3 separate regions of the Homo sapiens genome follow, and all the other regions are linked to region 2. The links come from fine-mapping of genetic effects on gene expression. A gene starts in region 2. Each other region holds a variant in brackets. All regions are shown on one strand. Distances are from middle to middle.

Evidence for each region. PIP is the estimated chance that this variant, and not a neighbour inherited with it, causes the effect.
Region 1: its variant is fine-mapped to the expression of TCL6 in whole blood (TOPMed, PIP above 0.99).
Region 3: its variant is fine-mapped to the expression of TCL6 in whole blood (TOPMed, PIP above 0.99).

Annotation. Positions count from the first base shown.
Region 1 is chr14:95,679,499-95,686,616 of GRCh38, reverse strand. It overlaps TCL1B (TCL1 family AKT coactivator B), which reads right to left and starts at 191. Exons shown (of 4, transcript NM_004918.4): 1 at 1-191. The coding sequence starts at 149. The variant A/C (reference allele first, on the strand shown) is at 3,745.
Region 2 is chr14:95,649,511-95,656,628 of GRCh38, reverse strand. It overlaps TCL6 (T cell leukemia/lymphoma 6), which reads right to left and starts at 4,532. Exons shown (of 8, transcript NR_028288.2): 1 at 4,403-4,532; 2 at 4,140-4,252; 3 at 2,003-2,120.
Region 3 is chr14:95,660,986-95,668,103 of GRCh38, reverse strand. LOC124903372 reads right to left here and starts at 3,291. Exons shown (of 2, transcript XM_047432042.1): 1 at 3,028-3,291. The coding sequence starts at 3,081. TCL6 (T cell leukemia/lymphoma 6) reads right to left here. Exons shown (of 8, transcript NR_028288.2): 4 at 5,440-5,624. RefSeq lists enhancers at 744-1,390, 2,037-2,684, 4,754-4,833. The variant C/A (reference allele first, on the strand shown) is at 3,383.

The sequences.
Region 1 (7,118 bases), 30 kb before region 2:
GAGGCCCTGGCCCATTCCCTACGCGAGGGATTGAACCGCACGACCACAGTCACCCAGGTTCTCCCCTCCTCATCTTCGTAGATGCCAGGCCTCTGGATCCACAGACGGCCAGGGGGCACCCCTAGACGCACAGAAGCTTCGGAGGCCATGGCAAGTCTGCAACCGGGACCCGCCTCTAGGCTCACACGTGTAGCTTTCCAGCTGCGCAATCTCCTTAAATGGAGCAGCTCCGGCGTGGGTGGGGCCCGGGCCGGCAGTGGGGGCGGGGCCGGCAGTGGGGGCGGGGCCAGTCGGGGGAGGAGGGGGAGGAGGAGGAAGGGGGAGGAGGGAGGAGGGAGGAGGGAGGAGGAGGAGGGGGGAAAAAAGCAACCTGCAGCAGGGGCTAGGCAGGGACGAGGCCAAAGAGCAGCGGAGTTAGGAACCCGGCCTGGGTCTCCTGGAGGGGCTGTGGCTGGACCGGCAGCTGCTGGAGGCAAAAGGGCGGCTCCCGGGGATAGAGCTGCCCAGGCTTCACCCCAGGCCTCTGCAAGGAATTTGGCTCCTAAGACCTATTCCACCTCCCTTCCACTGGTCCCAGTCCCTCCGCAGCCTCCTCCCTGAGCACCCCTGCCCAATTTTCTGTCAGGTGATTCCCCTCCTTTGCTCCCCACGACCCCCTGCCAACCATCCTGCCCCAGATCCTGAGCTGGCATGCACGACCCTGGTCTCTCCTATCCCTGTGGCCATTCCTTTAACAGGACTCTGTGTCAGGGACCCTTCTCTGAGCTTAGAGCTTAGAGGCATGGGGGGCGGGGGGCGCTGTAACCTCAGTGGACTCTTGCCCCTGGAGGTATCTGGTGAAGGCGCATCCTGCACAAATCAAGCTCCCTCTCCTTAGAAAATAAGCCAGTGCACTATCAGCATCTGAGCTCAGGATCAGATAAAGCCCACAGAAACAAGGCCACCGGAGGCCACGTGGCCACCTGGCCAGCCCATCCTTGGCCATGGGGCCCAGAGTGCCCACTTGGCCTGGTCGTCTTACTTGCTCGACTTTGTCAAGAGGCCTCAGAAGCTCAAGAACATAGCAAGAAGCAGGTCCGTTCTATAAGCACCCTGGGCTGCTTCTAAATGCACCATGAATAGGAACCTTTTCCTTTTGAAAACCACAAGCATGATTCTTCTAGTTCAAGTGAAGATTAGTATTGAGATGATGCCATTCTGCTGGGGAGATGTGAAAATGATTTCTGGACAGTCCTGATCCAGTGTAAATGGCAGGTAGGATAACCACTTTTGAAGAACTCCCTGGGCAGCTTCTGTGGAGGACTGAGTCTTGTTTTCACAGCAATTCCACCTCCATCCCCAGTGTTTTTCCAAGGAACCAACACTTGGGGTGGGAATGGAGTGGGCCAGGAAGACAAGGGACATCACAGTCTCATATAATGTGATCCATACATGGAATCACGTACGTGTGTCACCTTTGCCATATTCCATTGGTCAGGGGTAGGTCCTATCCTTACTCAAGGTTATGAATACCAGGAGGCAGGGATCATGGGGACCCCTGGTCTCCTGGGCCCCCCTGAAGCCTGTTTGCTGTAGGTACCTACCCTATGGGACTCCTCTGAGGATCAGATGAGGCTGTGTGTATAGTGTTAAAGCCTGACACATAGTGAATACTTGAAATACCCTGGTCAATAGTTATGTTCTCAGACTAGTTCCCTCTCCCAGGCAGAATCCATCATTCCTACCCTTGTAACCCCAATGCAATTGCTATTTATCTCTATCATTTTCTGTTGCAAATATATATTTTGATATTCTCAACCTCACTCCCTGATGGGCAGGTGTGTGGCTGTCAGTGGGGTTGGAGGTAAAGGTTGCCTAATATGTGGGGAGCCCCTATGCCATGTCAGGCATTTTTCATAGGGTATCTCACTAACACCTCCCAACAACTCCATAAACTAGAGACCGTCACCCCCATTTCATAGATGAAGTATCAGAGGCTTGAGTGGCTTAGCAACCTGAATGAAGTGGGTAGCAGAGGAAGGATATGGACCCAGCTGTTCCTGGCTCTAACATGCATGCTGCTTGTTGACTGCCTTGGCCAAGTTTGGCTCATTACATGGAAGAGGCAGAACCTGGAGTAGGGAGATCCACAGTGGCTACTGTAGAAATGGTGGTGGGGTCTGAAGATGGAGACTGAGAACACCTTGCCATGAGTGGGTGGTCAGAAGGTAAGCAGAGGTCTCCATAGGCAGAAAGAAATAACTACCAGTTAGCCTCAAGGTGGAAAATAGATTGCTTCACCGATCACCCTCTTTGGCCAGGTCTCCCATCCCTCAACCCTTGGACCTGGTATGAAAAAAGCCACGGAGCTGCAGGTGACAACAGTTTGGTTCCTGGTCCTTCAGCTGGTCTTTGTCCATGTCATGTCTGAGATAAGTGAGATAAGGCTATGTCTTCTGGCCAAGTTGTCCATCTCTGGTACCTGTGACCTGAAGGATTCACTCTCCGGGGTAGGTGTCACCAATGTCTTTGAGAACCACTTTGATCTCTCCAGAATTGCTCCCAGGATTGCCTGGTACTGATGGTGCACTCATGCCTGGGCCCAATGCTCTCCTCCTCCAGCAGAGGGAGCCCTTCACAAGCCCCAAGCCCTGGGGACGTTGAGGCTGGACACCCACTTGCCGGAAGGATTCCAGACCACAAACAAGGAGGCGCTGTGCAGGGCTTGGAAGGCTGGGTAAGAGTCACTGATACCTCTGCACATTTCTGTTCAGCTCCTCCTAGGTACTGGGCCAAAATGGCAGGGCAGACAAGATGCCAAAGGCAGACAGCCTAGACAGGGCATGGTTTAGATGGAACTGGCAAAGTTGTCCCACCGAGTAAGCAGCATGAGTAGACCTGGAGGAGAGGTAATTCAGGGTGTGTCTGGAGATCAGGAATAATGAGGATTATCCAAGCTCATATGATAAAGAATAAGAATGTGGTGGTGGTGGGGGCAGGGGTGGTATTGATGCTCCATTGTAAGCATCAAACACGCCAGTCCCAGCAGCTGGTTTTGAATGATGAGCAATGAGTGTTTGAGACAAGGAGTGACATAAGTATGCACTTAATGTTAGAACTAATGATAAAACCAAAGAGTGGCTTAGTATCAAGTAGATCATGACTACTAGAGAAAAGACTGGATGGGGATTGTGCAGATAATAACAAAAACAAGAACATCCAAGTTCCAGCTCTGCTTATTTCAGACAGTGAGCAGAGCAAACTTGCAAAGTGGTAAAAGAAAGTCAACCCAACCACGGAACTGAAGAATGAGGGTTTAGGAAAGTTTTGCTTATGTACACTATTTTCTTCTAAAGATTTTATTTAGATTAATTTTTCCATGTTGATATCCAATTAATGCCAATTATTTAAAAGACTATGCTTTGTCTACTGTACGGTATTATCACTTCTGTCATAAATCTGGGAACATTTATGTATGAGTCTGTTTCTGGACACTTTTCTATTCCATTAGTCTGTTTGTCTCTCCTTGTGTTGATACCACATTGCTAATTACTATAGCTTTAAAATAGGTCTTTATATCTTATTGTAAGATTCTGTTTCTCTGGAGAACCCTAATATAGCTATTCTCTTCCCTTTACATATCCATATGCATTTTAAAATCAGCTTGTTAATCCTCCCCACCTCCAAAAGCCTGCTAAGATTGATTGGGATTGTGTTGAATCTATAGGTATATTTGAAGAGAATTAACATCTCCAACATATTAAG[A/C]CTTACGATCCGAAGCAATTGCATAGTGTATCCTTCCATATTTTGGGTTGTCTTTAACTGTTCTCTCTGATTTCATTAAATTAACTCTTAAGTATTTGATTGATGCTATTTTAAATGTCATTTCAAATTATGTATTATGTTTGTTGCTGTTATAAAAAAATGCAACTGGTTTGTGTGCATTGACACTATATCTAAGACCTAGATAAATTGACTTAACTCTAATAGTTTATCCACTATTTGAGGAAATGTCTTAGCCATTGTATCTTCAACTATTCCCGTCTCATCCTTTCTTTTCCTCCCTTTCCCTCTCTTTCAGTGACTCCAATTACACATTGTCAGACCCTTTAAACAAGTGTACCGTGCTCTCTATGCTCTGTTCTTGTTTTGTTTCCTTTTTTTTCCTCTCTGAGCTTCAATGTTGATGTTTTCTATTAGTTTATCTTCCAGTTCACTAATGCTGACATCTGCTATAACCAATCTGCTCTCAAACAATTCATTTCTTTGCTGCAAATATTATATTTATTAGTTCCAGGATGCCCATTTGATGCTTTTTTTAAAGATTAAAACTTTATCTGATAATCTCTACACTCTTAATCATTTTGTCCATCATTCTATTTCTTTGGACATAATCATGGTTACTTTAAAGTTCTTGTCTAATAACTCTGGTTTACTGGTGGGCCTCCTTCTATTGTCTACTTTTTCTCTTGGTTTTTAGTTAAATGGTCTTTTCTCTTGAGTAATATTTAAAGGAATGCCAAATATTTTGTATAAAAGCACTGGAAAGACTCTAGCGTTTTCCCCCCAAGTAGAGTTAACCCTATTCTCTGCTAGGCAGATAGAGTGAAGTATTAAACAGTTTAATCCCAATAGGGACTAAACTGAGTCAAGGTTAAGATGCAGTTTGGATAAGAATCAGTCTATCCAGCCAGGCACAGTGGCTCACTTTGTAATCCCCACACTTTGGGAAGCCAAGGTGGGTGGATCGCTTGAGCTCAGGAGTTTGAGACCAGCCTGGGCAACACAGTGAGACCCCCATCTCTACAAAAAAATATAAAAAGAGCTGGGTACAGTGGTGCATGCCTGTAGCTCCAGCTGAGGCTGAGGTGGGAGGATCACTTGAACCCAGGAGGTCAAGGCTGCAGTGAGTCAAGATTGAGCCACTGCACTCCAGCCTGGGTGACAGAGTGAGACCCTATATTAAAAAAAAAAAAATTGCCTATCTATCTCTAGTTTGCCCTGCTCTTAGAGTATGACCCTCAATCAAGAGTCTGGTAGGTCTTTGTCTCAGCACTGTGAACAAAATTCTCTGGAAAGGAAACTGGAGGAAAGAGACTTTATATTCCAGTGAATAGTTTGCAAACCAGGGAGATGCAGCCTTCAGTGTAAAACAAGATGTGTTCCAGAGCACAAAGGGAGGGTTGGGGTTCTGTAGCAAAAGTTTCCACCCAGGTTCCCAATCAGGTCCATTTATGCAAATGAGAGATTCAGACTCAGGTAGTTCCAATTAGTTGATACAGCTGAGCCTTGATTGGTCAAGGCAGGTGGGCTCTGATTGGTTGGTTTAGGCGTGCTCTGAAAGTCACCAAGTCAAACAGAGGTGTTGGATTTCTGGGAACTCAGGAGTACCTATGTGATTTCTAGTTAGCAGATGGCTGCTTGGCTGTATTTTACTATTTCACATTTAGGCCTCGTTAGCCACTGGGGATCTTTCTGTCTTTTTTTTTTTTTTTTTTCCTTTTGAGATGGCGTCTGGCTCTGTCGCCCAGGCTGGAGTGCAGTGGCGCAATCTCGGCTCACCGCAAGTTCCGCCTCCCGGGTTCACGCCATTCTCCTGCCTCAGCCTCCCGAGTAGCTGGGACTACAGGCGCCCACCATCACGCCCGGCTAATTTTTTTGTATTTTTAGTAGAGACGGGGTTTCACCGTGTTAGCCAGGATGGTCTTGATCTCCTGACCTCGTGATCCGCCCGCCTCGGCCTCCCAAAGTGCTGGGATTACAGGCGTGAGCCACCGCGCCCGGCCTAGGGATCTTTCTTGAAAGATTGGCTCTTTCAGGTTCACATTTGTTCATGACACTAAGAGACTGCAGGAAATTATTTTCCTTTTGGGGGTTTTGGCTTTGCTCTTCAGCATCCTGCCCTGAACTGCTTCAAATTGTAAAAAGCCTGTGGAGAGAGGGTACTGGCCACGCATTTGAGATTCCCTCAAGTCTCCACATTTGTCCAGCTGCACAAAACTCACAGCTAATGTTCTCAGGAAAAAGCAGCTGCAGATGCCTGACAGCAGGGGTCAGTTCACCTGCTCTCCAGCGTTTTCAGCTCCTGCCAAGCTGTTCTCAGGAACTCCACCCCCTGGTGAGCCTTTGTCTTCTCAGGAGACCACAGGGAGCCTGGGCAACACGGTGAGACCCCACTCTACAAAAAATACAAAAAGTACCCGGGAGTGGTGGCACGTGCCTGTGGTCCCAGCTACTCCGGGGCTGAGGTGGGAGGATCACTTGAGCCTGAGAGGTCCAGGCTGCAGTGAGCTGTGATTTTGCCACTGCATTCCTGCCTGGGTGACAGAAAGAGACACTGCCTCAAAAAAAAAAAAAAAGACCACGGGAAATTCCACTCTACTTTCCTGAGGTCTTCAGCTTAGCCTGTCAGCCTCTCACATCACACAGCTTCACAGTTCAGCACCTCTGAAGGAGGAAGCTGGCTGGATGTTTGAGGCCCCCCCAAGCCTCTAATTTGATGACTCCACAGCATCCCCCGACTGGACTCAGCACCAATTTCAGTCTTTGCCCAGGATTATCAAATGACAGGAAGGGAAAGGCATCTGCAGATGCTCACCTCTGAGCTGTCCTCCCTTCTCCAGAATTTTACTTCCTCTGGCCCTTGTTGCTTCCATAGCTCCCCGATGGTTTGGAAAATACAATCTTTATTTTTATTTAGATTTTCCATAGCGTGGCTGTAGTGTTACCAGAAAGGGGTCCCAATCCAGACCTCAAGAGAAGGTTCTTGGACCTCATGCAAGAATTTGGGGCAAGTCCATAGGCTAAAGTGAAAGCAAGTTTATTAAGAAAGTAAAGGAATATAGAATGGCTACTCCATAGGCAAAGCAGCCCTGAGGGCTGCTGGTTGGCTATTTTCATGGTTATTTCTTGATTATATGCTAAACAAGGGGTGGATTATTCATGAGTTTTCCAGGAAAGGGGTGGACAATTGGAATGGAGGGCTCCTCCCCTTTTAGACATATAGGGTAACTTCCTGATGTGTCCATGTCATTTGTAAACTGTCACGGTGCTGGTGGGAGTGTCTTTTATCATGTTAATTTTATAATTAGTGAATAATCAGCAGTGAGGACAACCAGAGATCACTTTTGTCGCCATCT
Region 2 (7,118 bases):
ATGGATGGATGGATGGATGGATGGATAGATTGATAGGTAGAGAGACAGACACAAGACATATACAGATGGATATACATTTATTATAAAGGATTGGCTCATGCAATTGTGGAAGCCAAGAAGTCCTATAATCTAGAAAGATTGCTTGAGGCCAGGAATTTGAGACCAGCCTGGGCAATATAGCGAGATCACATCTCTACAAAAAATTTAAAAATTAGCCAGCCATAGTTGCACATGCCTGTTGCCCCAGATACTCAGGAGGCTGAGATAGGAGGATCACTTAGGCCCAGGAATTCGAGGCTGCAGTGAGCTAGGATTGCACCACTGCACTCCAGCCAGGGCAAAAGAGTGAGACCCTGTCTTTTAGAAAAAAAAATTAAAATATTAAAGAATGTCAGAGAAAAAAAATAGTTCAATGATAGTAATAGCTAACATTAATTCAGTTCATTAAATTCCAGGAACTATTTTAAGTATTTTATGTGTAACTTCTAGTGAGAAAAAACTGGTCTCATTAATAAACATGTTGGAATTTAAAATGCCATCAAATCTCAATGGCCATGTTGAGTGCTAGAAGATGAGGGGGCAATGCCTTCAAAGTTCTGAGGGGAAATATTTCCCACCCTAGAGTTTGTGAACCAAAAAATATCTGAGACAGGTCTCAATCCATTTAGAAGTTTATTTTGCCAAGGTTAAGGACATGCCTGGAAGAAAAGGACACAGAATCACAGAAACAAGTCTATGATCTGTCCCTTTCTCCAAAGATGATAGTGAGGGCTTCAATATTTAAATGGGGGAAACAGACATGGAAAAATTCATCTCTGGAGGGGATAGAGGAAGGGTATGGTAATCCACACATTGCAAGAGGAGAAGAGCAGCTAGGGAATAGTCAGTTACATATCTGTCTCCTGCTCAGTAAATCAGCACTTTACATAAGATAAGGTGAACATGGAGTAGCTACCTGTGGAGATATTTAATCTTTTATCTGTAGCCATCTACTTAGGAGCAAAAGAAAAGGCAGTTTCTTGCATGACTCAGCTTTCAGCTTCTTTTTTTTTTTTCCTTTTGGCATACTGAATTGGGGTCCTGAGTTTTTATTTTCCTTTCACAAGTTCAACATCCAGTCGCATTATTAATCAAAGGTTAGGGTCAAACAAAAACATTGTCAGATAAGGAGGGGCTCAAAAAATGGGTCTCCTGTGCACCCTTTCTTAGGAAGCTACTGGAGAACAGGTTTTAGCAAAAGAAGATAATAAGAAAGAGAAAAATGCATGTTAAAAGATAATTTTCAAAAACAGGTTAAATGATAACTCAATATAGATATAAAAATGAATATGTGCTGTAACAGTCCATTTGCACACTGCTATAAAGAACTACCTGAAACTGGGTAATTTATAAAGGAAAGAGGTTTAATTAACTCACAGTTCCACATCGCTGGGGAGACCTCAGGAAACTTACAATCATGGCAGAAAGCGAAGGAAAAGCGAGCACCTTTTTCACAAAGTGGCCAGAGAGAGAGAGAGAGAGAGAGAGAGAGAGAGAGAGAGAGAGAAGGGGGAACTGCCAAACACTTTTAAACCATCAGATCTCGTGAGAACTCATTCACTATATGGGAACACCATGGGGAAAACCACCCCCCATGATCCAATCATCCCCTACCAGGTCCATCCCTTGACACACAGGGGGATTACGATTCAAGATGAGATTTGGTGGGGACACAGAGCTAAACAATATCACGTGCTGCTCAAGATTATGTTTAACTCCTCAGTGAAGAAACTGAAGAGGTGTGACAGCCAATTCAAAGGAGAATCTGAAGGACAGGCACATTTATTGATCAGAAATATTGAAATGGGCTGGGCACAGTGGCAAATGCCTGTAATCCCAGTAAGTTGGGAGGCCAAGATGGGAGGATCACTTGAGCCCAGGAGTTTGAGACCAACCAGGGAAACACAGGGAGAGCCCATCTCTATAATTTTTTTTTTAATTTGCCAGATATGATGACACGTGCCTGTAGTCTTAGCTGCTTGGGAGGCTGAAGTGGGAGGATCTCTTGAGCCCAGGAGGTTGAGACTACAGTGAGCCGTGATTGCACCACTGCACTCTGGCCTGGCACAGAGGGAGATAACCTAAAAAAAAAGAAAAGAAGGAAGAGAAGAGAAATATTGAAATGAATGTGTAAAATGGAAGCAAACTAGGGGATTTGGGGGGAAGTGAGGAAGGGTTGTCTCTCTTCAAAATATAAGCATTTGCATATCCATAGACAAGAATTATTTTTCATTTCTATCGGTTATCTGTAGCTTTCAGAATGGTAAAATAGGTCCCATAGAATTGGAATCAGATAACATGGAAGAGTATGCCCTAGACAGAGAAATATTCTGTTCCTTGCCTCCCACTGAAGCAGAGTGTTTTCTACAAATGCAATCCAGGTAAAGGAGAATACCTGTTAGGAAGCCTGGGAAGAGCATTCCGGGGTGGGGTTGGGATGGGCTGAGAGATGCCAATCAACTTGTGAATACACAGCTAAACAAACTCAACAAAACATGATTTGCTTTTGTTTTTTTGAGACAGAGTCTCACTCTGTCACCCAGGCTGAAGTGCAGTGGCATGATCTTGACTCACTGCAACCTCCACCTCCTGGGTTCAAGCAATTCTCCTTCCTCATCCTCCCAAGTAGCTGGGACTACAGGTACCTGCCACCACGCCTGGCTAAGTTTTTTATATTTTTTAGTAGAGACACAGTTTCGCCATGTTGGCCAGCCTGGTCTTGAACTCCTGACCTCAACACCATGACTGGCCTAAACAAAATATGTTTTAAAAGTCTTCTCCCAGGCTGGGCATGGTGGCTCCCACCTGTAATCCCAGAACTTTGAGAGGCTAAGGCAGGGGTATTGCTTGAACACAGGAGTTCAATACCAGCCAGGGCATCATACTGTGACCCCCATCTCTATAAAAATAAAATAAAAATCGTATCCCTGTAATCCCACCAATTTGGGAGGCTGTGGTGGTAGGATCACTTGAGGCCAGAAGTTTGAGACCAGCCTGGGCAACACAGTAAGACCTCCATCTATACAAAAAGTTTTAAAATTAACCAGGCATGGTGGCGCATGTGTGTAGTCTCAGCTACTTGGGAGGCTGAGAAGGGAGGATCATGTGAGCCCAGGGAGGTAGAGGCTGCAGTAATCCATGATTGCACCACTGCACTCCAGCCTGGACGATAGAGTGAGATCATTAACAAATAAAAACAGTCAAGCTCTGTAAAATATTTGAAGAGATTTATTCTGAGCCAAATATGAGTGACCATGGCCTGTAACACAGCCCTCAGGAGATCCTGAGAACTATGCCCAAGGTGGTCGGGGTGCAGCTTGGTTTTATACATTTTAGGGAGACATGAGATGTCAATCAAATACATTTAAGAAATACATTGGTTCTGTCCAGAAAGGTGGGACAACTTGAATTGTTGGGTGGAGGTTGGGGGCTCCCAGGTTACAGGTAGATTTAAAATTGACTGGTTGACAATTGGTTAAGTTTATCTAAAGATCTGGGCTCAATAGAAAGAAAATGTCTGTGCTGTGATAGGAGGTTGTGGAGACCAAAGTTTTACCATGCAGATGAAGCCTCCGGGTAGCAGGCTTCAGAGAAAATAGATTGTAAATGCTTCTCATCAGAGAGGTATAATGAGTCCTGTCTGACCTCTACTTTCCATCATGGCCTGAACCAGTCTTTCAGGTTAAAAGTACCCTGGCCCAGGAGGAAGTCCATTCAGATGGTTGCAGGGAGGGCGGGGCTTAGAATTTTATTTTTGGTTTACATCCTGTCTCAAAAGAAAAAAAAAAAGAATAAAAGAGTTTTTGGTTTACACCCTGTCTCAAAAAAAAAAAAATGAAAGAAAAGAAAAATCTCAAGGACATCTAAAAGCTGATAAGACAGAAATTACCAGGCCAAAAATAAAAGGGAAGTAGAATGCAGAAAGGGAAAAAAAACAGAATGGAAGCTGCTTTTTCCCTGAGAGCTTTTTCAGAACCTGAAAATCAGAACTTGTTTGAGCCTCCCGGAGACTGGTGGAGAAAGAAGTCCAGCCAGGCCCTGCCCAACTCTAAAGGAAAACCCAAACTTGTCGATATTTGATGAGACTATAAATCGCTTGCCTCTTTTCACTCTCTGGTGCTCCAGCAGCACAGCCCCACACCAACCTTCATCTGGAGTGTCTCAAGACCTTCTGGAATCTTCTCCCACACATACCTCCTTACACAGGTCCATTCTGTGAAAATAAGCAATTCAAAATCTAAGCTGTTGGAACTTTAAAATATTTCGAGCCTTAAGGGAATTTGATCATGGGACCTGAGTCATGTAAACAGGCAGCTGCAACCTTTGTTTCTCTGATTATAGATTAGCCTTTTTCCTTACTTACATTGTTGTGTAAAATGTCGTATATGACTGAAGCGTTCCAGGGAAGACCCCTTTCCTCTTCACTGTTGATCTTCATTATAGATTAACTCCCTCTTTCCTCTCTGACAGAGACTTCATGACCATCACATTGTCTGGGATAGAATGTTAAACACATTCTTAAATTGGAAAGGAAATGAAAACAAGCTGTAGAGAAAAGAAAACAAGGTGGAGGCAGGGGAACAACCTATAATTAATTATAGGTTGTAACTCATAAACCAGCCTTGCATAGAAAATGTTAAACAAGAAAGTTAAAACAAGAAAAGTTATACAAGAAAATGTTCTACAAGGTTACTAAATGTCTTTGCTTTCTGCCTATGTAAGCAAGACTTTAACTTTTAACTTCAGGGCCCTGGCCCCATTTTCCTAGAGTCTGTGTTTCTCAGATGGCCATTCCCAGCTTTTGGCTTGAATAAACTCTTTAAAACTGGATTCTGGGCTGGGTGCAGCGGCTCACGCCTGTAATCCCAGCACTTTGAGAAGCTGAGACAGGAGAAATCACTTAAGCCCAGGAGTTCGAAACCAGCCTGGTCAATAAAGTGAGACCGATTAAAGAGAAGTAAACTTAAAAACGAACAAAAACAACTTTGTTTTTAAAACTTAAAAACTTAAAAACAACGAAAACCCTGGATTCTGATCCTTTCAATTACTTTATATTGACAATTCTACTATGGGTGCTGCCCAATCAGCCTTGTAAAGCACAGGGCTGACCACTTCAACTCCCTGCTGAGGGTTGAATCTGGAATAAAATCCAGATTCCAGAGCTACGGTGCCCTTAGATCTGGGGCTGTTGCTTTTGTACTTCTGTTTTTCCACTTTACTTAGCTGAAGCACAATCCCTACAGCAAGCTAAGAAAGGAAAAGGTCCATTCCAAAACCCTTCGCTCCCTAGACCACTGCTCTGTGTGCAGACAACGAAAACAGCCGAGAGTTCACACAAAAGGGAAGGACTAACTGCCCGGGGCAGGCTTCAAGGAATGCCTGTTAAGCCCCAGGGAGGAAGTGGCTGTTGACTTGGGAAGAGTCCGTTGGGTAGTCAAGGGCTAAGGTGGTGGTTGACATGAAGGCAAATTTTCCATGCCCTGGTGAGAAGTTGGAATCCTTGCTGTGAACGTTGGGTAGTACAGTTTGCAGGACCATTTGCTTGGCTATTGGGTCCCACCTGTTGACAGGTGCCAAGCCTGATTTTCCTTGGCCTTCCCTCCTGATTTAGCTGAACACCAACCTTCTCAACACAACCCCGAAGTACACCTTGCTCAGTTTTTAACAGAGCTGCTAGATTTCAAGGCATGATTCTCAGCACTGTGTCCGGAATTGGTGGGTTCTTGGTCTCACTGACTTCAAGAATGAAGCCGTGGACCCTCGCGGTGAGTGTTACAGCTCTTAAGGTGGCGTGTCTGGAGTCTGTCCCTTCTGATGTTCAGATGTGTTCGGAGTTTCTTCCTTCTGGTGGGTTCGTGGTCTCGCTGGCTCAGGAGTGAAGCTGCAGACCTTCGCGGTGAGTGGTACAGCTCTTAAGGTAGCGTGTCTGGAGTTGTTCATTCCTCCCGGTGGGCTCGTGGTCTTGCTGGGCTCAGGAGTGAAGCTGCAGATCTTCGCGGTGAGTGTTACAGCTCATAAAAGCAGCGTGGACCCAAAGAGTGAGCAGTAGCAAGATTTATTGCAAAGAGCAAAAGAACAAAGCTTCCACAGTGTGGAAGGGGACCCGAGCGGGTTGCCAATGCTGGCTCGGGCAGCCTGCTTTTATTCTCTTATCTGGCCCCACCCACATCCTGCTGATTGGTATAGGGATAAGCAAGTACCTAGCCACCACCATCTTTGCTCCCAGCGTGGCTCACCTGCCTAGCTCAAACCTTCATGGAGCTGTGATCTGTACCCCAGGATACAAACAAAAGTGGGCACCATCCCATGGTCCATATCAAATTCATGACCAGCTCCCAGAGGACCCTCCTGCTGCCATGCTGATCCTCAGGCTGCAGACCTGCTTGACTCTTCACACCTGGCTACTACTGCACTCCAGGATTCTCAATATGACCCCTCCATCCACCCAGCTGCCAGGACCAGAAACCCTGGCCATGCAGTAAGAATTCACTCAACAAACACTGAGCCCCAACTCTGGTCAGGCACTGGGGACAAATCAGATGTGGCTCTACCCTGCTGCAGCTTGCAGTGTGACTGGGAGTGATGACGGTCCCTAGCCTCAGCCTGTCACCTTGCATCCGTCAGTCCCACATCAGCCCGTTTACCTCAGGCTCAGATTGTCCATCGCAGGGACCATGCAGCTCAGTGTTGGCCCTGCCTCTGGGCTTGCCCCTCCAGCTCCCCCTTCACTCTGCTTCCAGAGATACATTGCCCATTCTAATTTAATTTTACCTCTTCCCAAATAAAACTCCTCAGTAGATGCCAATTGTTTTTAGGATAAAATTAACCACCTTGTTTTGGCACCCACAGGACTGCATGACCCTCATGCCAGGCCCCCAGCTCAGACATGTTGGTTCAGATGGAGCACCTGGCAGTTCCTTGAATGGGTCACACCCATCACACCTCACACTGCTGCCATGCTGGCCTTGTGCCATGAATGTCCCGCCTCCTCCTGCATGGTGCCTTGGTCAGATAGGCTTCGACTTGTCTCCCATATTTCAGAAAGTCTTCCCTGCCCCTCCAAACCAGGCTCCATGCCC
Region 3 (7,118 bases), 11 kb before region 2:
ACTCACATTTAATAGCTTCATTCTAACATCTCGGGTACCCCATAAATACATCACTCTGCACCCACAAAAATTAAAAATAAAAAAATTTTAAGTTGTTTTATGATATAAAAATAGCTTGAATCTAACCAAACTATAGACAAAATCATGAGTTTGATATTCTGGTAACTTTTTGGAAATACATAAATGCATATTAATCATTGCAATTCTCTATCTTTGCAGCAGTTATAGCCTATCGGGGAAAAATTCAGAAAAATAGAAAAGCATTATAGATGGGATGGAATCATTAACAAGAGGTAGATTATGAAAATTTCCAAATGAGGGGCATGAGTAGTAGGGGTGACCTGGGCTTCCAAAGGTGCCTCTGGCCACAGAGTGAGGCAGGAGATTCCAGGTGAGCCCAGACAGGAGCAAGGAGGGGGTTGGGCTTGTGACCAGAGCTCGAGTCTGGGAAGGGCCTCCACTGGCCACCCTGAGCACAATGAAGGTGTGGTACAATACCCAGCAGGGGCCTCACCACGTGCAGACATGGGCCCTCACCCCCTCCTGAGCTTAGAGCCCCCAGGGAGGCAGGCAGGAAGTGGTGTTTGCAGACAGCTTTCAGCAGAGTGCCCAGCAGGTGCCCTTTGTGCAGATGGTACAGTTCCCAGGAGCTCTCTCTCAGTGCCCTGCCCTCCAGCCCCACCCCTGGTTCCAGGGAGGGCCACACTAGGGCAGGATCCAGCAGGACAGCAAGAAGCCAGCTCCCTGCCTGCCTGACTACAAGGTGCCTTTTGGCTCTCAGACAGTGCAGTAGTGGAGCAGTGGAGCTGCAGCCAGCCAGAACCCGGTTCAAATTTCAACTCTGCCTCTTACTAGCCGGCTGACCTGGGCACTTTCTTCCTTTTCTGGCCTCTGTCTCCTTTTCTGTAAAACTGAACATGAATATCTGTCTTGTTGGACATTGCATCCACCCGATGTTTACTGGGCATCAGTTAGGAGTTAGGCATTGTTCCTGCTGTGAGATCCCACTGATGCCTGGGGTGACGGATCATCATACTCAACAGAGCTTTCATTTATCAAGTGCTTCTTCTATACCAGACCCGGGATGAAATGCTTTACAGCTAATATCTCGTTTAATCGTCACCAAAAGCCAAGCAGAGGTCGAATCATCCCATTTAACAGTTCAGAAAAAGAAGTCTCATGAGGTGAAACAAGCTGCCCAAAGAGTTTCAGCTTAGCACAGCACAGCTGGGATGGAACCAAGGCCTGTGGGACACCAGCCTGCTTCCCAGCACCTCCCAAGGGGTCCACACCTGGGACATTCTGGGGAAATGCCTGGGATTAGCCAAGGTCCTTGATCCCCTTCCCACACTGCATTGCACACAGGACGGGGCACATTGAGTGTCCATAACCAGTCAGGAGTGACTGGTGGAGGCTTGAACAGCGTGACCAAGCATTCCACCTCACATCAGGGGTCCTGCCCCTAAATCTCAGCGGGACCGCAGCCAAGTGGCTCCCTGACTGGGCCTGGGCAATGAAGAGATGACAGTTGATAAAGATCTTTGGAGAGTTCTCAGAGCACTGATCAAACATAGAGTCACCATTTGGATCAGAGGGAGCTCGTGTTGCTGGCCTTGGATGCTGGCCTGCCACTCTCTAGCTTTGTGACCTTGGGTAAGTGACTTAACCTCTCTGAGCCTCAATCCAACTCAGTTTTCCTGTCTGTATTCCAGGGATAGTAGTAATGCCTTCCTGACAGAGCTCAGAGGTTAAAGGAGATGATGGAGGCAAAGTGCCAGAGCATGGTGCCAGGCCCCAAAGGGTGCAATGATGTGATGGGATCATAAGAAGAGCGGGTATGGTGGCAGCCCCATTTCCCTGCATCCTCCTGGCTCCAAGCATGGGAGGCAACACCCAGTAAACCTGTGGAATTGAGTTGAATCTACCAACCCCAGATAAGAACCCATGTGCAGTGTCATGAAACCACTTGCAGTTATAGGGTAAAGACCTCAGAGGAAAAAAATATGCTTTGTTGGCCGGGCGCAGTGGCTCACGCCTGTAATCCCAGCACTTTGGGAGGCCGAGGTGGGCAGATCACGAGGTAGGAGATCGAGACCATCCTGGCTAACACGATGAAACCCCGTCTCCACTAAAAATGAAAAAAAAAAAAAAAATTAGCCGGGTGTAGTGGCAGGCGCCTGTAGCCCCAGCTACTCGGGAGCCTGAGGCAGGAGAATGGCGTGAACCGGGGAGGCGGAGCTTGCAGTGAGCTGAGATCACGCCACTGCACTCCAGCCTGGGGGACACAGTGAGACTCCGTCTCAAAAAAAAAAAAAAGCTTTGTCCACAGTCCAGGGTGGGAGGCCAGTAGGGGGCTTTACTGAGCAGGGCAGAATCTGTTTTCTTTCCCTCCATATTAGAGTCAAGACCATGTAGGGAGCTCCAAATGCCACGCCTTTCCCCAGCTGGTGGCTGCTGTTATGCTGAACCCCTATCTACTCCAATGGGGATGGCAGCAGGTTTGAGAGGCTGAAGAAAGGACCCAGGGCTGCTGAAGGAGACATGGAGTTTTACTGGGGCTTACATGCAGGGGAGAGCATCTAGCAGTGGTGGGCTGGGCAGGAGAGCCACACAACTTACAAAAAGCTTGCAGCATATATAGCATCTTCACTTAGCACCCTCCCCCAACAGTGTCCACCTGGCAACATTTACCTAACCCAAAACAAAGGGCCTTGATCCCCTGTACTGTCCGTGTTGCACAGGACGGGACAGGAGCTCAGATGTTCCTCATAGATAAGGAATAGGAATGAATCTCCAGGTTGGCCACTCCCAGATTCCTTAGCTCAGAACTCCAAACCACATTCACCTGCACCTGCCATAAGGGTCATTCTCAGGGGATGCTTAAGTTATTGCTATCAGGTGCGTTCACTGTAAGCGGCTTTTGGGGAAATCACCTGCTGGGTCTGGAGGAGCAGGGCTATCATAGGAGAAGGTCCCCCAGGTTCAGAAGAGCCTGGTAATCTCAAGCATATCACCTCCAGGCCTCACCTTCCCCATGCATCCATCCAGGGGCCTCTTCCTCTGTGTCACTCTGGGCTCCATCCTCTTGGTGCATTTGGAGTCAGACGAGACCTGGGTTCAAATCCTTGGCTGGAGGGATGCAAGATGCACGTGGAAGGAGAACCAATTCATCCTGTCCAGGCTCTTCTAGAGCAGCTGGTCTCCTGCCGACCTGTCTAGCTGACCCTAGCACCAGAGCAAGCTCAGCCAAGGTGGGCCAAGCCAGGCCCCGGTTGGCAGAAACACTCAACTGACTTGACACATGTGGGCAACAATAAGTGCTTGCTACATTTCGGTGTGGCTTGTCATGGAGCAATAGCTCACTGGTGTAACCAAGAGGCAG[C/A]AGAGCTGTGCGTGCGGTAAACAAACAGCAGTCCAGCTGCCAAGGAACATTTCATATACGAAGGCAGGAAGCCGTGACAGCACCTGCAGTTTACCAGCAGGGTAGTTATGAGGCCTGGTGCTGTGGGGGTCCTTCTACCACGAGAGAAGCCAGCCTGGGGACAGAGGACAGAGGAGACCCTATTCCCCACTTGTCCCCTCGTGTGCTCCCACATGGCACAGATATTTGATGCTCAGAGCTGTGCCAGGCATCTTACAAAGGTGAAGGAAAGGAAAACTGTATAAATGGGGATGCCAGCTCAGTGCCCTGATCTGATGAACCAGTGCTGGAAGCTTCTGTTCAGGGATAAAAATAAGCCCTTCTTATTTCAGCTACATTGGCAGGCTTTCTGTTGCCTGCTGCTGAAACTCCTATCTGATGCACAGTGGCTGCCTGGTCCCCACAACTCCCTGATTTCTGCAAGACCAGGCCAGACACCAAGAACCTCCCATTCTGTCTCCATGCCAGAGGTCTGTGCCTAGTTGGTGCACTTCTGAATGCAATTAAAAAGCTTGTTTGAGGCCAGGTGCGGTGGCTCGTGCCTGTAATCCCAGCACTTTGGGAGGCCGAAGCAGGTGGATCACTTGGTCAGGAGTTCAAGACCAGCCTGGCCAACATGGTGAAACCTCGTCTCTACTAAAAATACAAAAATTAGCCTGGCATGGTGGTGGGCACCTGTAATCCCAGCTACTTGGGAGGCTGAGGCAGAAGAATCACTTGAACCCGGGAGGTGAAGGCTGCAGTGAGCCGAGATCGCGCCACTGCATTCCAGCCTGAGTGACAGAGCAAGACTCAGTCTCAAAAAAAAAAAAAAAAATGTGTTTGGTGCTCAGCCCAAATGTGGGACAGTCTGTTTCTATTTTATTTTCTCTCAATTGATTCCTTGTGAAAAGTTCTTAACCTGCTCTTTTAAAATACTCTGTGTCACCTCTCCCAAACAGCACAATCCAACAAGGTGCTGACACTGTTCCAAATTGCTGTCCACTTAAGATTAAAGTCCAAAAAGAAAGGGAGAAAATAAATCACAAGACATGAAACTGGCCTCACCACTGCTGTCCCCTCTTTGGCTCCACACACACTCTCAGACTTTCTGTTTCTGATTGCAGGTGTGTAGCTGGAAGGTGAACTGAGATAGCATGAAAACAGGTGGCATGGGCTGCAGAAAGAGCACTGGGGCAGGAAACCTGGATCCTGCGCTGCTCGGATGCACTTGGCTGTGTGACCTTGGACTTGGCCATCCACTCTCTGGGCTTCGGTTTTCTCCTGTGTTCAGGGAATTCTCACTAAGTCCTCTTCCCATTCTGCTCCTCTGTGAGTTGAGTGAGGATCTTTCTCTTTAATTTCAGCCTCCATCTTGTAAACCAAGAAGTATCTGAGACAGGTCTCAATCGATTTAGAGATTTGTTGTGCCAAGGTTAAGGACATGTCTGGAAGTAAAAAGACACGAAATCACAGAAACAGTCGCTAGTCTGTGCCTTTCTCCAAAGATGATTTTGAGGGCTTTGATATTTAAAGTGGAAAAGTAGGCTGGAGAGGAGAAAGGCAGTGTATGGTCACATGACTGAATCCACATGTTGCAAAGGAAACGGAGTAGGTAGGGGATAGTCAATTACGTATTTGTCTCATGCTCAATAAATCAGCAGTTTACGTAAGATAAGGTGAACATACAGTAGCTACCTGTGGAGCTATTTAACCTTTTATCTGTAGCTATCTACTTAGGAGCAAAAGGAAAGTCAGCTTCTTGCATGACTCAGCTTTTGGCTTTTTTTTTTTTTTTTTTTTTTTGCCTTTTTGGCATAGTGAACTGGGTTCTGAAGTTTTAGTTTTCCTTTCAGAACCTGCAGCTGCAGCTGTGTCCCATGAGTGTGGTAAGGCTTAGGGTGTTTTTGGAGATGAGCAGACCCAAGTTTTAATTCCAACTATGATGCCCAAATGCTAAGTTAATGTTGGACAAGTATTTAACCAATCTGATCTTCAGTTTGTCATCTGTGAATGCGGAACAATAATAATAATAATACCTTCTTTTGATAATTAGAGATAATGCATATGAGATATAAGCACAGAGCAGATGTTCCATGGCTGGTAAATATTCTCCCTCTTCCTCTTTGTGTGGTTGTCTGCTTGCTGTGTGTCTATGGAAGTCAGATGAGCATTTGCCCAGAGGTTGGTAGATGGAGCCCACAAGCTCATAAGAATAAAATAACTAGAATGGAAACAGAAAATTAGATGTTCCATATGTTGTAACTCATTTTTGGCTGGAAATTATAGAGACCTTGGTTGGGAGTGTCATTAGATACTTGGAAAGGATGGGCGATGATTAGCACAGGTGGCTGGAGATGAACTCCCTGAACCGGCCCTGACATCTTGTTAGAGAGAGAAAAGCTCACATAGGTGTGAGCCTAGAATTTCAGTTAATATGCATTTATTCTGTATCTTGTCATCACAAAGTTGAGTTTCGCAGTCTGCTAAGAAGAGCAAAGAACTTCCCAATAATATTGAAAGGTAATAGTCCTAAGGACCTTGAAAAGCTACATTTGTTAAGGAGTTTACTGTAGAATAGCATGCTTGTTCAGTAAAAGTGAAAAACCACCTTTGTCACAGGTGGTTGATTTCACCGGACAGCGCTGGCGATCATTAACCCACCATGACCTCCCACATTCGCCTTCAGTCACCTCCACCTGTTTTTGCCGGATGCAAAGTATCTGTTTGATGCCAGATAAGTATTTGTTTTGCAAATAAGAATAATGTGGCCGGACGCGGTGGCTTACGCCTGTAATCCCAACGCTTTGGGAGGCCAAGGCAGATCACCTGAGGTCAACAGTTCGAGACCAGCCTGGCCTACATGGCAAAACCCTGTCTCTACTAAAAATACAAAAAAGTTAGCTGGAGATGGTGGTGCACACCTGTAATCCCAGCCACTTGGGAGGCTGAGACAGGAGAATCGCTTGAACCCAGGAGGCAGAAGTTGCAGTGAACCGAAATGGTGCTACTGCACTCCAGCCTGGGTGACAGAGTGAGACCACATCTAAAAAAAAAAAAAAAAAAAAAAAAGTTTAAGTTCTAGATCTACAGATGATCCTGGATCGCCCACATAGGCCCTAAATGTCATCACAAATGTCCTTATAAGAGGGACAGAGGGACATCTGACTGCAGAAAAGGAAAGGCAACGTGAAGACGAAAGCAGAGGGAGATCTGAGGATGCTACACTACTGGCTTGGAAGAGAAGCAAGGGGGACGAAGGGCCAAGGAATGCAGCTCTCCAAGCTAGAAAAGTTCAGGAAGCAGATTCTCCCCTAAAGCCTCAGGAGAGAGCACAGCCCTACCTTGGTTTCAGCCCAGTGAAACTCGTTCTGCACCTTTGACCTCCAGAACTACCAGACAATGTTTGAAGGCACTCAGTTTGTGGGATTTGTTACAGCAGCCCTAGGAAGCTGACATCCCTGTTAAGGCTCAGCGTTGTTCCCAGACAGGGGACTGAGAGCAGGATCCATCCAGCGCTGCTCAGATCTTGCTGTTACCTTCAGGAGGTCCCAGGGAAGAGTTTGGAAAAGGGGAGGCTTTGGGTGTGGAATAGTTAAGTGACTTGTCATACAACCACACCAGAGGACGCTGTGTGGGTGTTAAAAATGACATCCCACAGAGCTTGGATGATGCAGGGAAATGCTTAGGATATAATGCCAAACAAAAAGAACAAGGA